Linked DNA regions of Homo sapiens. The protein of the gene in region 1 binds, or shares a complex with, the protein of each later gene. Each region holds a gene or a part of one and is shown in the gene's direction. Other genes may lie near its edges. The genes, in order: PLOD3 and COLGALT1.

The links.
Region 2: the proteins of PLOD3 (region 1) and COLGALT1 are in contact, whole or in part, in a cryo-EM structure (PDB 8ZGE), measured with the Homo sapiens proteins. Residues at the interface, in NP_001075.1 of Homo sapiens: Leu226 (codon at 7,180), Val229, Val230, Leu231, Lys232, Phe233, Asp234, Arg235, Arg241, Gln261, Tyr264, Leu265, Pro275, Gly430, Ala431, Leu432, Arg440, Glu442, Glu446, Arg452; in NP_078932.2 of Homo sapiens: Ala36, Tyr37, Phe38, Pro39, Glu40, Glu41, Arg42, Trp43.

Annotation. Positions count from the first base shown.
Region 1 is NC_000007.14:101,214,395-101,222,271, reverse strand, and holds the start of PLOD3 (multifunctional procollagen lysine hydroxylase and glycosyltransferase LH3 precursor), read left to right. Parts: upstream 1-4,690; 5' UTR 4,691-4,997; coding exon 4,998-5,106; intron 5,107-5,485; coding exon 5,486-5,577; intron 5,578-5,725; coding exon 5,726-5,862; intron 5,863-5,945; coding exon 5,946-6,109; intron 6,110-6,251; coding exon 6,252-6,364; intron 6,365-7,119; coding exon 7,120-7,183; intron 7,184-7,877. Other genes in the region: ZNHIT1 (zinc finger HIT domain-containing protein 1), read right to left, coding at 3,787-3,853. UniProt on the Homo sapiens protein: Multifunctional enzyme that catalyzes a series of essential post-translational modifications on Lys residues in procollagen. Plays a redundant role in catalyzing the formation of hydroxylysine residues in -Xaa-Lys-Gly- sequences in collagens.
Region 2 is NC_000019.10:17,579,586-17,583,781, forward strand, and holds the end of COLGALT1 (procollagen galactosyltransferase 1 precursor), read left to right. Parts: coding exon 1-24; intron 25-1,113; coding exon 1,114-1,320; intron 1,321-1,591; coding exon 1,592-1,859; 3' UTR 1,860-3,572; downstream 3,573-4,196. UniProt on the Homo sapiens protein: Beta-galactosyltransferase that transfers beta-galactose to hydroxylysine residues of type I collagen. By acting on collagen glycosylation, facilitates the formation of collagen triple helix. Also involved in the biosynthesis of collagen type IV.

The DNA of each region.
Region 1 (7,877 bases):
CTCAATACACATGGCCCTCACACTCAGCATCTCACCTCCTACCTCAAAGGAACCAGGGGCCACCCATGCTTGGATACGCTCATCTTCCAGGCCACCTACCCACAAACGTGATGCCAAGTGGGCACACCCCTGCCCTGGAGCGCCCCAAGTCCCACCACTGACCCCGAGCCTTCACCTCCAGCCCATTCCCTCCCTCTCCCATCTTCAACCCCTCCTCCTCAACCGGCACTTTCCATCAAAGAGCTGGCGACGCTCATGTGTCTACTCGGCTTCACAGCTCCTTCTCCTTCACAGCAACTCACGTGATGTGTCACTTTTTCACCTCCCATCCTCTCCTTGAACCCCAAAATCTGACACCTGCCTGGTCATCCTGGGGGACCACCCACCCACGCTCTGGGCCCCAGAGCGGCTCCAGTGTGCCTTCCTCCTCCTCCTTGGACCTGAGCCCTGTCCACCCTGTGGCGGTGCCGACTACCTTCATCGAGTAGAAAGAGACCCTTTGCTTGCTTCCTTGACAAAACTGCAGGCCTTCTCCATGTCCAGGAATCCTCCGGCTCCAGCTCGGCTGCTCTCCCTGCCTCTATGGAGGTGGCTGGCCCTCTTCTCTGCTCAGTCTATGCACTCTTCCTGGGATTTTGACTCCAAACAAAGGGCTCTGATGATCACCCACAAGCAAATGACTCCCAGAGTGACTCCCTCAACACAGAACCTGCTCCCGGGCTCCAGAACTGGCCATGCAGCCAGCGCCTGGTGAGGCCGGGTGTGGTGGCGCACGCCTGTAATCTCAGCACTTTGGGAGGCCAAAGGATCGCTTGATGCCAGGAGTTAGAAACCAGCCTGGGCAGCATAGCCAAACCCCATCTCTACAAAAAATTAAAAAATAAGCCAGGCGTGGTTGCACATGCCTGTAGTCCCAGTTACTTGGGAGGCTGCGGTGGGAGGACTACATGGGCCCGGGAGGTTGAGGCTGCAGTGTGCAGCAAGCCGTGATCGCGCCACCACTCCAGCCTGAGTGACAAAGCAAGACTGTCTCCAAAAAAAAAAAAAAAGAAAGAAGGAAAAAAGAAATCACCCACTGGCCCTGTGGACACTGCAACTCAAAAAAAAAAAAAAATTCCCATCCAAGTCTGCTTCTCCTGCAGATTCTCTCTACGCAAATGGAACCGTCTATGCAGACATCCAAACCAGAAACCTAGAAGTTATTTTAAACCTCTTTCCTCGGCTGGACATAGTGGCTCACCCCTGCAATCCCAGCACTTTGGGAGGCTGAGGTGGGCTCATCACTTCAGGTCAGGAGTTCGAGACCAGCCTGACCAACGTGGTGAAACCATGTCTCTACTAAAAATACAAAAATTAGCAGGGTGTGGTGGCACATGCCTGTAATCCCAGCTACGCGGGAGGCTGAGGCACAAGAATCGCTTGAACCCGGGAGGTGGAGGTTGCAGCGAGCTGAGATCGCGCCATTGCATTCCAGCCTGGGCAACAGAGAGAGACCCTGTCTCAAAAACAAAAAACAAAAAACCTCTTTCCTCATTGCCTTATCAGCTGTTTGCCAGATTCTGATAATTTTGCATAATATATCTCTTTATTCATTAACCACCTGTTAAGCATAATAATAACAGCAGCAGCCCCAGTAGCTATCACTTGTTGGACACTTACTATGAGCCAGGCACGTGCTCAGCTCTTTGCAACACTTGAACCATTTAACCCTTACAACAGCTGTATGGGACAGTATCATCATCCCCAATTTACCAACATTCAGAGATTAAGAAATGTGTCCAAAGTTCACATAGCTAACAAGTGGCCAGGTCAGGAGTCAAAGAACTACCCAGCATCAAAAAGCATGACCTTGCCAGGCGCAGTGGCTCATGCCTGTTATCTCAGCACTTTGGGAGGCCAAGGTGGGTGGATTGTTTGAGCGCGGGAGTTCGAGGCCAGCCTGGGCAACATGGCAAAACCATGTTTCTACAAAAAAAATACAAAAATTAGCCAGGTGTAGTGGGACACACCTGTAGTCCCAGCTATTCAGGAGGCTGAGGCGCAAGGATTGCTTGAGCCCAGGAGCTCAAGGCTGCAGTGAGCTGTGTTTGTGCCACTGCACTCCAGCCTGGGTGACAGAGCAAGACCCTGTTTCAAAAAAAAAAAAAAAAAAAAAAAAACCCAAAACCAACCAAACAAAAAAAAATATGATTATGATCACTGTACTACTCTGTCTCCCCTCCAAATGCCAGGCAGTGCTCTAGGTTTTAGGGATGCCAAAGCTTACAGTCCAGTGGCAAACACAAATGATTAATGAAACAAACACAGTAAGTACAGCATGGAGTAGGCTAGGATACGGAAGTATAAAGTGCTGCAGAGCCCAGGACAGAAACACCCAACCTGGCCTTGGAGTAGTCAGGGAAGACTTCCCAGAAGAAGGTAAGTCTAGGTTAAGGCCTAACTGGTGAATGACCTGGCTAGGGGAGACAGCGGGGTATTTCAGACCTTGAGGCCAACATGAAAAAACTGATGGCTGGGAGACTGCGATGCCTTTGAAAAACTGAGAGGGCCAAGCGCAGTGGCTCATGCCTGTAATTCTAGCATTTTGGGGGGCCGAGGCGGGTGGATCACGAGGTCAGGAGATCAAGACCATCCTGGCTAACATGGTGAAACCCTGTCTCTACTAAAAATACAAAAGATAAGCTGGGTGTGGTGGCGGGCGCCTGTAGTCCCAGCTACTCCAGAAGCTGAGGCCAGAGAATGGTGTGAACCCGGGAGGCAGAGCTTGCAGTGAACCGAGATTGCGCCACTGCACTCCAGCCTGGGGGACAGAGCAAGACTCCGTCTCAAAAAGAAAAAAAAAGAAAGAAAGAAAAACTAAAAGGGCCAAGCGCAGTGGCTCATACTTGTAATCCTAGCATTTTGGAAGGCCGAGGCAGGAGGATCACATGAGCTCAGGAGTTCAAGACCAGCCTGGGCAACATAGTGAGACACCCATCTCAACAAAAAATATAAAAACTAGCCCAGCATGGTGGCCTGCACCCACCTGTAGTTCCACCTACTCAGGTGGCTGAGGTGGAAGAATCACTTGAGCATGGGAGGTTGAGGCTGCAGTGAGTTATATAGAACCACTGCATTCCAGCCTGGGTGACAGAGCAAGACTCTGTCTAAAAAAAAAAAGTCTTTGCTGGCTCTCCAGTGTTTCCCTACAGAGTTCAAACTCCTGGGCAGTGTGTATAATGCCTTTCAAAATGTAACCTTTCCCCAGCCTTCGATCCTTTCTTATTACTCTGTAAGATCCAAACTGTGAACTTGGCTTCCTAAGCGACTTGCTTTTTCTTGCTTCACTGCCTTTGCACGTGAGGTTCCCACTGAGAGAAACCCTAACTAGACTTTCAAGACTCAATTCAAGCTTTTTCATTTTTCCTTCAAGCTTTCACAGTCCCCTGCCTCCCAGAACCTGGGCTAGATGCCACGTCTCCCTGTTCCCAGGCGCTGTGCTTCCCTCTGCCATAGCACAAATCACAAATCACAGTAAAATACAGTGTTAGGTCTGCGTTTCTGCCCCCCTTCCAGAAAAAGCCAATGCTTGGATAAGAGGGGTCTTTCTCCTCTTCATCCCCAGCGCCCGGCTTGGAGCAGGCACCAATAAAACGTGAATGAAGGGTCAACGCCAGGACCCGAGGGCTGAGGAAGGGATTTACGAGGAATAGCTGGGGCCGGGCGCGGCAGCTCACGCCTGTAATCCCAGCACTTTGGAAGGCCCACGCAGGAGGATCGCTTTGAGGCCAAGAGTTGGAGACCAACCTGGGCAACATAGCGAGAGCCCGTCACCACATAACAAATTAAAAATTAACCAGGCGTGGGGCCTCATGCTTGCAGTTCCAGCCACTCCGGAGGCTGAGGTGGGAGGATGGTTTGATCCCAGGAAATCGAGGCTGCAGTGAGCTATGACTATGCCACTGCACTCCAGCCTAGGCGAAAGAGCGAGACCAAAAAAGAGGAATGACTAGGTAAGAAAATTCTAGGACTGACTTGGGAAGGGGAAGGGGGCGAACCGCGGGGGCTCACATACCCGAAGTTTTCTTCTCCACCATTGGCACAACACAACTGTCGGAAGAAACTGCTGCGCACGCGTACTAACCCCAAGGCTTTAGTAGGGGCGCCATCACTTCCGGTAGCTTGTACTTCTGCGCGTGCGCCACAGCTTTGACTCATTACGTGGCGTTTCCTTGGAGACAAGAAAGCTTTTCGCCATGTTTTATAGGGGCAAAACCACTTCCGGCCTCAGTGTGGAGGTGTAAATCTTGTGGGAGCCACGAAATGGGTCATTTTAAAGATGTGGTCACGGTGTTCTTACAAGAAATCTTATTTTCCTTTGGTCCTTGTGAAGATGCTGTGATCACAAAGGCAGCCCCTGGAGCTTCTCCGGGCAGAAGAGGAGGTGGGCTGGACTGTCAAAGAAAGTGGCTGGCTTCCGTGGGCAATCCGAGGTTCCTAGTGGCCCTCTGCAGAAAGCTGAACTCCCAGTTCCCCCAGGCCTCCGTCCCGCGGCGGACTCCTAGGCTTCCTCCCTCCCTGTCGCCGCCAGCCTCTCGCTCTCCCCGTCTTCCGCCCGCACTCTCTGGGCAGGGCTGCGGCCAGGACCCGCCCCCGCGTCCCGCCCGACCCTCCGCCAGGGGTCACTTCCCCTGTCCAGGTTTCAGCTTCCACATGTGTCAAGCGGCTGGCTCAGCCCAGAGTCCCTGTCTCCCGCCCGCCGGCCCGAGCCGCCGCCCCTCCCCCGCCTCCCGTGCGCCCGGGACAATCCTCGCCTTGTCTGTGGCGCCGGCATCTGGAGCTTTCTGTAGCCTCCGGATACGCCTTTTTTTCAGGGCGTAGCCCCAGCCAAGCTGCTCCCCGCGGCGGCCGCACAGCAGCCCGAGCGCCCCCTTTCCAGAGCTCCCCTCCGGAGCTGGGATCCAGGCGCGTAGCGGAGATCCCAGGATCCTGGGTGCTGTCTGGGCCCGCTCCCCACCATGACCTCCTCGGGGCCTGGACCCCGGTTCCTGCTGCTGCTGCCGCTGCTGCTGCCCCCTGCGGCCTCAGCCTCCGACCGGCCCCGGGGCCGAGACCCGGTCAACCCAGGTGAGATCCCGGGGAGGCCCGGCACGGCCGAGGGGGCAGAGGCTGGCGTGCCTGCCAGCCTGGCCCGGAGAGGGTCGGAGGCTCGAGGAGGTGTCTGGCCCGTCCCCCGCCCAGCGTGCTCTTGAGGCTGAGTCGCGCCAAGCCCCTCGCCCATCACTACCCTGAACTGGGGTTTCCAGCCTCCCTATGCAAAGGGACTCGGAATTCCTGGGCACCACTCCCACCCTGCCCTCCTTGGGGTCAGAGTGTTCCTGGGTGAGAAGAGTTTAAGAATGGGAAGGAAGAAAGGGAGGGAAGTCGAGTGAGAGGGAGGACAGCAAAGCACGTGAGGCCCGGAGCTGGGCGGTGGATCTCAAGTGCCATTTCCCTCTGGTAACAGAGAAGCTGCTGGTGATCACTGTGGCCACAGCTGAAACCGAGGGGTACCTGCGTTTCCTGCGCTCTGCGGAGTTCTTCAACTACACTGTGCGGGTGAGGAGAGGGAAAGGCCCCTGGGAGGGGGTCCCAGCAGGAGGGGTGGGCTGAAGTCTGGATGCCCAGGTCCCCACGGTAAGCCTGGTCAGGAGTTCCCCCCACAACTCCCCACCCCTTGCCTGGCACGGGGCAATCTTCTCCACAGACCCTGGGCCTGGGAGAGGAGTGGCGAGGGGGTGATGTGGCTCGAACAGTTGGTGGAGGACAGAAGGTCCGGTGGTTAAAGAAGGAAATGGAGAAATACGCTGACCGGGAGGATATGATCATCATGTTTGTGGATAGGTAACGGGGCTGGGGATAGGGAGCGGGGTAAGGATGCTGAGGTTCCCAGTGGACCCCTGCCCATCCTCCCCTTCCTCACCCAGCTACGACGTGATTCTGGCCGGCAGCCCCACAGAGCTGCTGAAGAAGTTCGTCCAGAGTGGCAGCCGCCTGCTCTTCTCTGCAGAGAGCTTCTGCTGGCCCGAGTGGGGGCTGGCGGAGCAGTACCCTGAGGTGGGCACGGGGAAGCGCTTCCTCAATTCTGGTGGTGAGTGGCAGAGTGCCCAAGGCAGAGGGGCCAAGAGCGGTGGGACACAGAGTGTTAAAGGCGCCTGAGGGCTGGAGACAGCCTGGGGGACAGGCCCTGGGACCCTGGGAGTCTCGAGGTCAACACTCCCCCTCCCCGCCAGGATTCATCGGTTTTGCCACCACCATCCACCAAATCGTGCGCCAGTGGAAGTACAAGGATGATGACGACGACCAGCTGTTCTACACACGGCTCTACCTGGACCCAGGACTGAGGGTAGGGAAGGCAGAGGAGTGGGCGCATCCCGCAGCTCTGTGGGAGTGGAGGCCTCAGGCTGAATGGGATTTGGGGAGCAAAGGGGGTTGCAAAGAGAAAAATGTGTGCCTGGGCGTGGTGGCTCACGCCTGTCATCCAAGACTTTTGGGAGGCTTAGGCAGGAGGATTGCTTGAGTCCAGGAATTTAAGACCAGCCTGGACAACATAGTTGAGACCTCATCTCTACAAAAAAAAAGAAAGAAAAAATTAGCCAGGCTTCATGGTGTACGCCTGTAATCCCAGCTACTTGGGAGGCTGAGGTGGGACCATCACTTGAGCCCAGGAGTTTGAGGATGTTTTGCACCACTGCATTCCAGCCTGGGTGACAGAATGAGACTCTGTCTCTCACAAAAAAAGGAAAACCATGGTGGCTCATGCCTATAATCCCAGCACTTTGGGAGGCTGAGGCGGGTGGATCACCTGAGATTGGGAGTTTGAGACCAGCCTGGCCAACATGGTGAAACCCCGTCTCTACTAAAAATACAAAAATTAGCCAGGCGTGGTGACACTCTCCTGTAGTCCCAGTTACTTGGAAGGCTGAAGCAAGAGAATCAATTAAACCGGGAGGCAGAGGTTGCAGTGAGCTGAGATCGTGCCATTGCACTCCAGCCTAAGCAACAAAAGCAAGAGAAGAAAAAAAGAGAGAGAAAAGTGAGAAATGATGTCCTTTCCACTCCTTCCATTTTAACCACTCCATCGCATCTCATTCCATTTAGGAGAAACTCAGCCTTAATCTGGATCATAAGTCTCGGATCTTTCAGAACCTCAACGGGGCTTTAGGTGAGGAGGAAGACAGCCGCAGGTGGGCGATGCGCAGCCTCTGCAGCTAGGGGTCTTGAGCTGGGAGAGGCTTCTGGAGGAGCTGGGCTGATCCAAGCCCACCTCTATGTGGTTTTGTCAGGCGTCTGAGTGGCTGGTTGTGTAAGTTGCACTGTGCTGATGGTACTACCAGAAGCAAGGGAAGCAAAAACGTGTCTGGCATCTGTTGCACACATGCTGTGCCTGGGCACCGGGCCAGGGACTTTTTTTTTTGAGACAGAGTTTCGCTCTGTTGCCCGGGCCGGAGTGCAGTGGTCCAATCTTGGCTCACTGCAGCCTCCACCTCCCGGGTTCAAGTGATTCTTCTGCCTCAGCCTCCCGAGTAGCTGGGATTACAGGCATGCGCCACCACGCCCAGCTCATTTTGTATTTTTAGTAGAGACAGGGTTTCACCATGGTGGCCAGGCTAGTCTCGAACTCCCAACCTCAGGTGATCCGCCTGCCTCAACCTCCCAAAGTGCTGGGATTACAGGCATGAGCCACTGTGCCCGGTCTACTTCTGTGATTCCATTTAACAAAGGGAAGGTCCCTGGTTATCCTTCTTGTACAGATGAGGAAAACAGCTTGTGGAGGGGTTGGTGACTTGCCTCAGGGGATGGGGAGAACGGGGAGAGAGAGAGGCCAGGCACGGTGCCTCACGCCTGTAATCCCAACA
Region 2 (4,196 bases), on another chromosome or scaffold:
GGAGGGCCTGGACTGGGACCTCATGTGAGTGGGGGTCTGAGGATGGGGTGAAGCTGGGGCCTGGGGCAAGGCCAGGACTTAGAGGTGGGGGTGGGGGCAGGGTGGAGCTGGGACCTGGGGATGGGTCATGGCTTAGAGGCGGGGCTTGAAGGTGGGGTGGAACTGGAGCCTAGGTACATGGCCAGGGCTTAGAGGTGGGGCTGGGAGGCGGAGTGGAGCTGAATCCTACGGGCGTGGCCACAGCGCTGCAGCTGAGCCTAGAGCCTGTATGTCTGGGTGTGGTCAGGGTGGCAGGCGTGGCCAACCCTTGGAAGCGTAGCAGGAGGGCTCACGTGGTTCCTGGGCCTGAAGGCACTGTCAGGGCTGTAGCCTATAGGGAAGGGCGTTGGAAGGATCACCCAGAACTCAAGGGACCTGGCCGGAAGCCTGCAGGCTTGGTCAAGGCTTAGAGACTTGACTGAGGCCTGTGGAGGTGGATGTGGCTAAAATTTGACCGGGCAGCCTGTGGGCGTGGCTGAAGAGCATGGGGGTGTGGTCAGAGCTGGAGGTGTGGCCGAAGAGTGTGGGGGCGTGGCCAGGGCGCCTGGTCTTAGACAAGCCCCTGGATGGGAGTGCCACCAACATGTTTCCAGCACTGGAGCCGTCCTTCTCTTCTGTAAGTGGGCTGGTTTGTCCTCTCCCTTCCTCCATCTCTTTTTTCCCTTCCATGTGCAGTGCCCTAATCTGCATTCTGGGAACACTGCCCCATGTGAATAGTAACTGCACCCCTCCATTCCTGACTGCCCCCCCATCAGGGCACCTCGCCCACCTCCACCCCCACTGTCCTCTGAACTCAGAGCAGCTTCAGCCTCAGAGAACGTCTGCGTGATCCTGCTCTCCCCAGCTCCAGATCCTCCATGGCTCCCTCACGCCCTTTGGAAAAACTCACTCTTCTCCCCCATGACCGCCAGACCCCTGGGCTCCTGCATTCACTCCATCCAGTCACAGAGCTCTGCAAACATGCTGAGCCTGCTCCCATCCCAGGACCTGACGGGGTAACTAGATCCCTGGCTTTCTGGGCAAGCTCCCTCCGGAGGGCGGGAGGAGAGTGACAGGCCCGATCTTGCACCCCAGCTATGTGGGCCGGAAGCGGATGCAGGTGGAGCACCCCGAGAAGGCTGTGCCTCGCGTGAGGAACCTGGTGGAGGCCGACTATTCCTACTGGACCCTGGCCTACGTGATCTCCCTGCAAGGCGCCCGCAAACTGCTGGCTGCTGAGCCGCTCTCCAAGATGCTGCCTGTGGACGAGTTCCTGCCCGTCATGTTCGACAAACACCCAGTGTGAGAGGGGCAGGCGGCTGCTGGGCTGGGGTTTCACGGTGGGTCTGTCCTGGGAGAATGGGGATGTGAGACTCACGGCCTCCGAGAAGATGTCTCTTCTTTTGCCTACTTCTCCCTCCGTTTGCCCCCTCGCAGATCTGTCTCCATTTGTATCCCCTGCACACTTACGTTTTAATCTGTCCCCGCTGACTTCTTCACCCCCAATTTTTCCTCCAGCTGTCCCGTCCCCTGAAGCCATTGCTGCCCCTCACTCCCCTCCTCCTCCCCCCAGGTCCGAGTACAAGGCCCACTTCTCCCTCCGCAACCTGCATGCCTTCTCTGTGGAGCCGCTGCTCATCTACCCCACACACTACACAGGAGACGATGGCTATGTGAGTGACACCGAGACCTCAGTCGTATGGAACAATGAGCACGTCAAGACCGACTGGGACCGCGCCAAGTCCCAGAAGATGCGGGAGCAGCAGGCACTGAGCCGTGAGGCCAAGAACTCGGACGTGCTCCAGTCCCCACTGGACAGTGCTGCCCGGGATGAACTCTGAGGGGTAGCAGCCAGAAAGCCAAAGCAGCCATCGGTGGCCCAGGCTCCACGTGCTTACTGAGGACATCAGGTCCACCTCTGGACCCCTTGGCAGGCCACAGAGGGCTCTCGTGTGGGGTGGTGTCCAGCCAGCTCTTGCTAAGCAATCACGTGCACACAGGCAGCATTAATGGAGTGCCTACTGCATGCCAGCAACAGGGCTTGGCCCTGGGGAATTGGGAGGAACCAAGCCCTCTTCATCTGTTCATGTGCCCAGCATTTATTAAGCACCTGCTGTATGCAAGGTTCCCATGTTACGGCAGTGAATGAGGCATAATTGTTCCCTCCATCAGCGATTGATTCAGTCATCAAGCAGTTACTGATCAGATTAAGAATCAGGCACTAGTGATACACATTCATTTTTAAAATTCATTCAAGGATTTATTGAGTGCCTACTGTGTGTTGGGTGCCATTCCAGGCTCTGGGATTTTTTTTTTTTTTTTTTTAAGAGTAGAGTCTGTCTCTGTCACCCAGGCTGGAGTGCAGTGGTGTGACGGCTCACTGCAGCCTGCGCCTCCCAGCGTCCAGCAATTCTTGTTTCTCGGCCTCCCAAGTAGCTGGGACTATAGGTGCGTGCCATCACATCTGGCTAGTTTTTGTATTTTTAGTAGAGACGGGGTTTCACCATGTTGGCCAGGCTGGTCTCGAACTCCTGACCTCAAGTGATCTGCCCGCCTTGGCCACCCAAAGTGCTAGGGTTACAGGCATGAGCCACTGTGCCCAGCCCAGGCTCTGGGAATATTGAGATAAATAAGATGCTTCTATCCATTTATTCAAGCACATATTGGTCACCTACTGTGTGCCTGGCACTCATGTCACAAAGATAAGTTCCTGATTCGGTACACTTACTGAGCACCTGCTGTGTGCAGGGAGCTGAGCTATGGGATGGGAATGGGAGTAAACAAGGTACTTTTTACTTTTTTCTTTTTTTCCTCACTGCTAGACGGTGTGGGAACTTCTCACTCATTGGCTTCTTTCCCACACACCTGAAGAGCACTGACTGTGTGCCGGGCACTAGTGATACAAAAGAGTGTGACAGTTGTTCAGTCTGCATTTTCGATCATGGGCTACATGCCGAGTGCTGGGGCACAGAGATGAACAAGATCGGTTCCTTCACTTCTTCATGCCACAAGTGTTTATTGAGCACCTGTGTGCCAGGCCTCACAGACTCCCAGTTGGGTTGAAGAATGGTTGACTGAGTTTGATTCTTCCTGTACCCTCGGTCGTCTGAGCTGTGTGCAGACAACATCCCCCCACCACCCAAGAGGGAGGGTAGCTCTTCCGCCACCAGGGGCAAGCACAGGTCCTGGTGGCCCCACGCCACATGTTAGCCCCCCTGGAGGGGGCGCCAGTTGGAGACGGGGGCTGGGTGTCCCTGGCCCACTCCCGGTCCCCTGTGCTTTACCTCCTTGCCCTTGTGTCTCAGGTGTGGTCCCTGCCTGCTTGATGAAGTTGCTCTGTTCAAGCCTTTGGTGGGATCATGTGTTTGGGGGCTTTTAGGGGACCCAGCTGCACTGGGGCACTGCCCGTGGCCTGGGTAGGACATTTCCCAGCAAGGGCTGGAGGAGTTGCCGTGCCTTCAGCCTGAATCGAATGTCAGAACCAGCCAGCGGTGCTTCACCCTCTTGGGGATAACTTGCTTAGTTTTTTAATAAATGTTCCTGGTTGGTTTTCACAGCAGTTTGTGGGATTTTGCTCGGCACCAAAACACTGCCCACGTTCCCCACCCCTGGATGGCCGACAAGATTTGGGAGGAAACCAGGGCAGGTGCAGTAGGGAAGCTGCCCAGTGGGGCCTGGCATGGTGGCTCATGCCTGTAATCCCGGTGCTTTGGGAGGCTAAGGTGGGCGGATCACTTGAGGTCAGGAATTCAAGACCAGCCTGGCCAACATGGTGAAACCCCCTCTCTATTAAAAGTACAAAAATTAGCCTAGTGTAGTGGGGCGGGGTGGCGGGGGGGGGGTACCTGTAATCCTCGCTACTTGGGAGGCTGAGGCAGGAGAATCGCTTGAACCTGGGAGGTGGAGGTTGCAGTGACCCAAGATTGAGCCACTGCCCTCCAGCCTGGGCGGCAGAGCAAGACACAATCAAACCAAAAAAAAAAAAAAAAAGCTGGCCAGTGGAGCTACTGTGGGGTGAGGGTGTGGTAAGAGCCCTGTGTCCCCTCATGCCATAAAACTTCCCCCAAACAGGCGGGGGACCGACAGCTCTGTCTTGAGTCAACTTCAGGATCCTTCCACATGACTTCGAATAAAGAGGGGCTGTCGTGCTTTGAGTCCCCCTAAAACAGACCTCAACA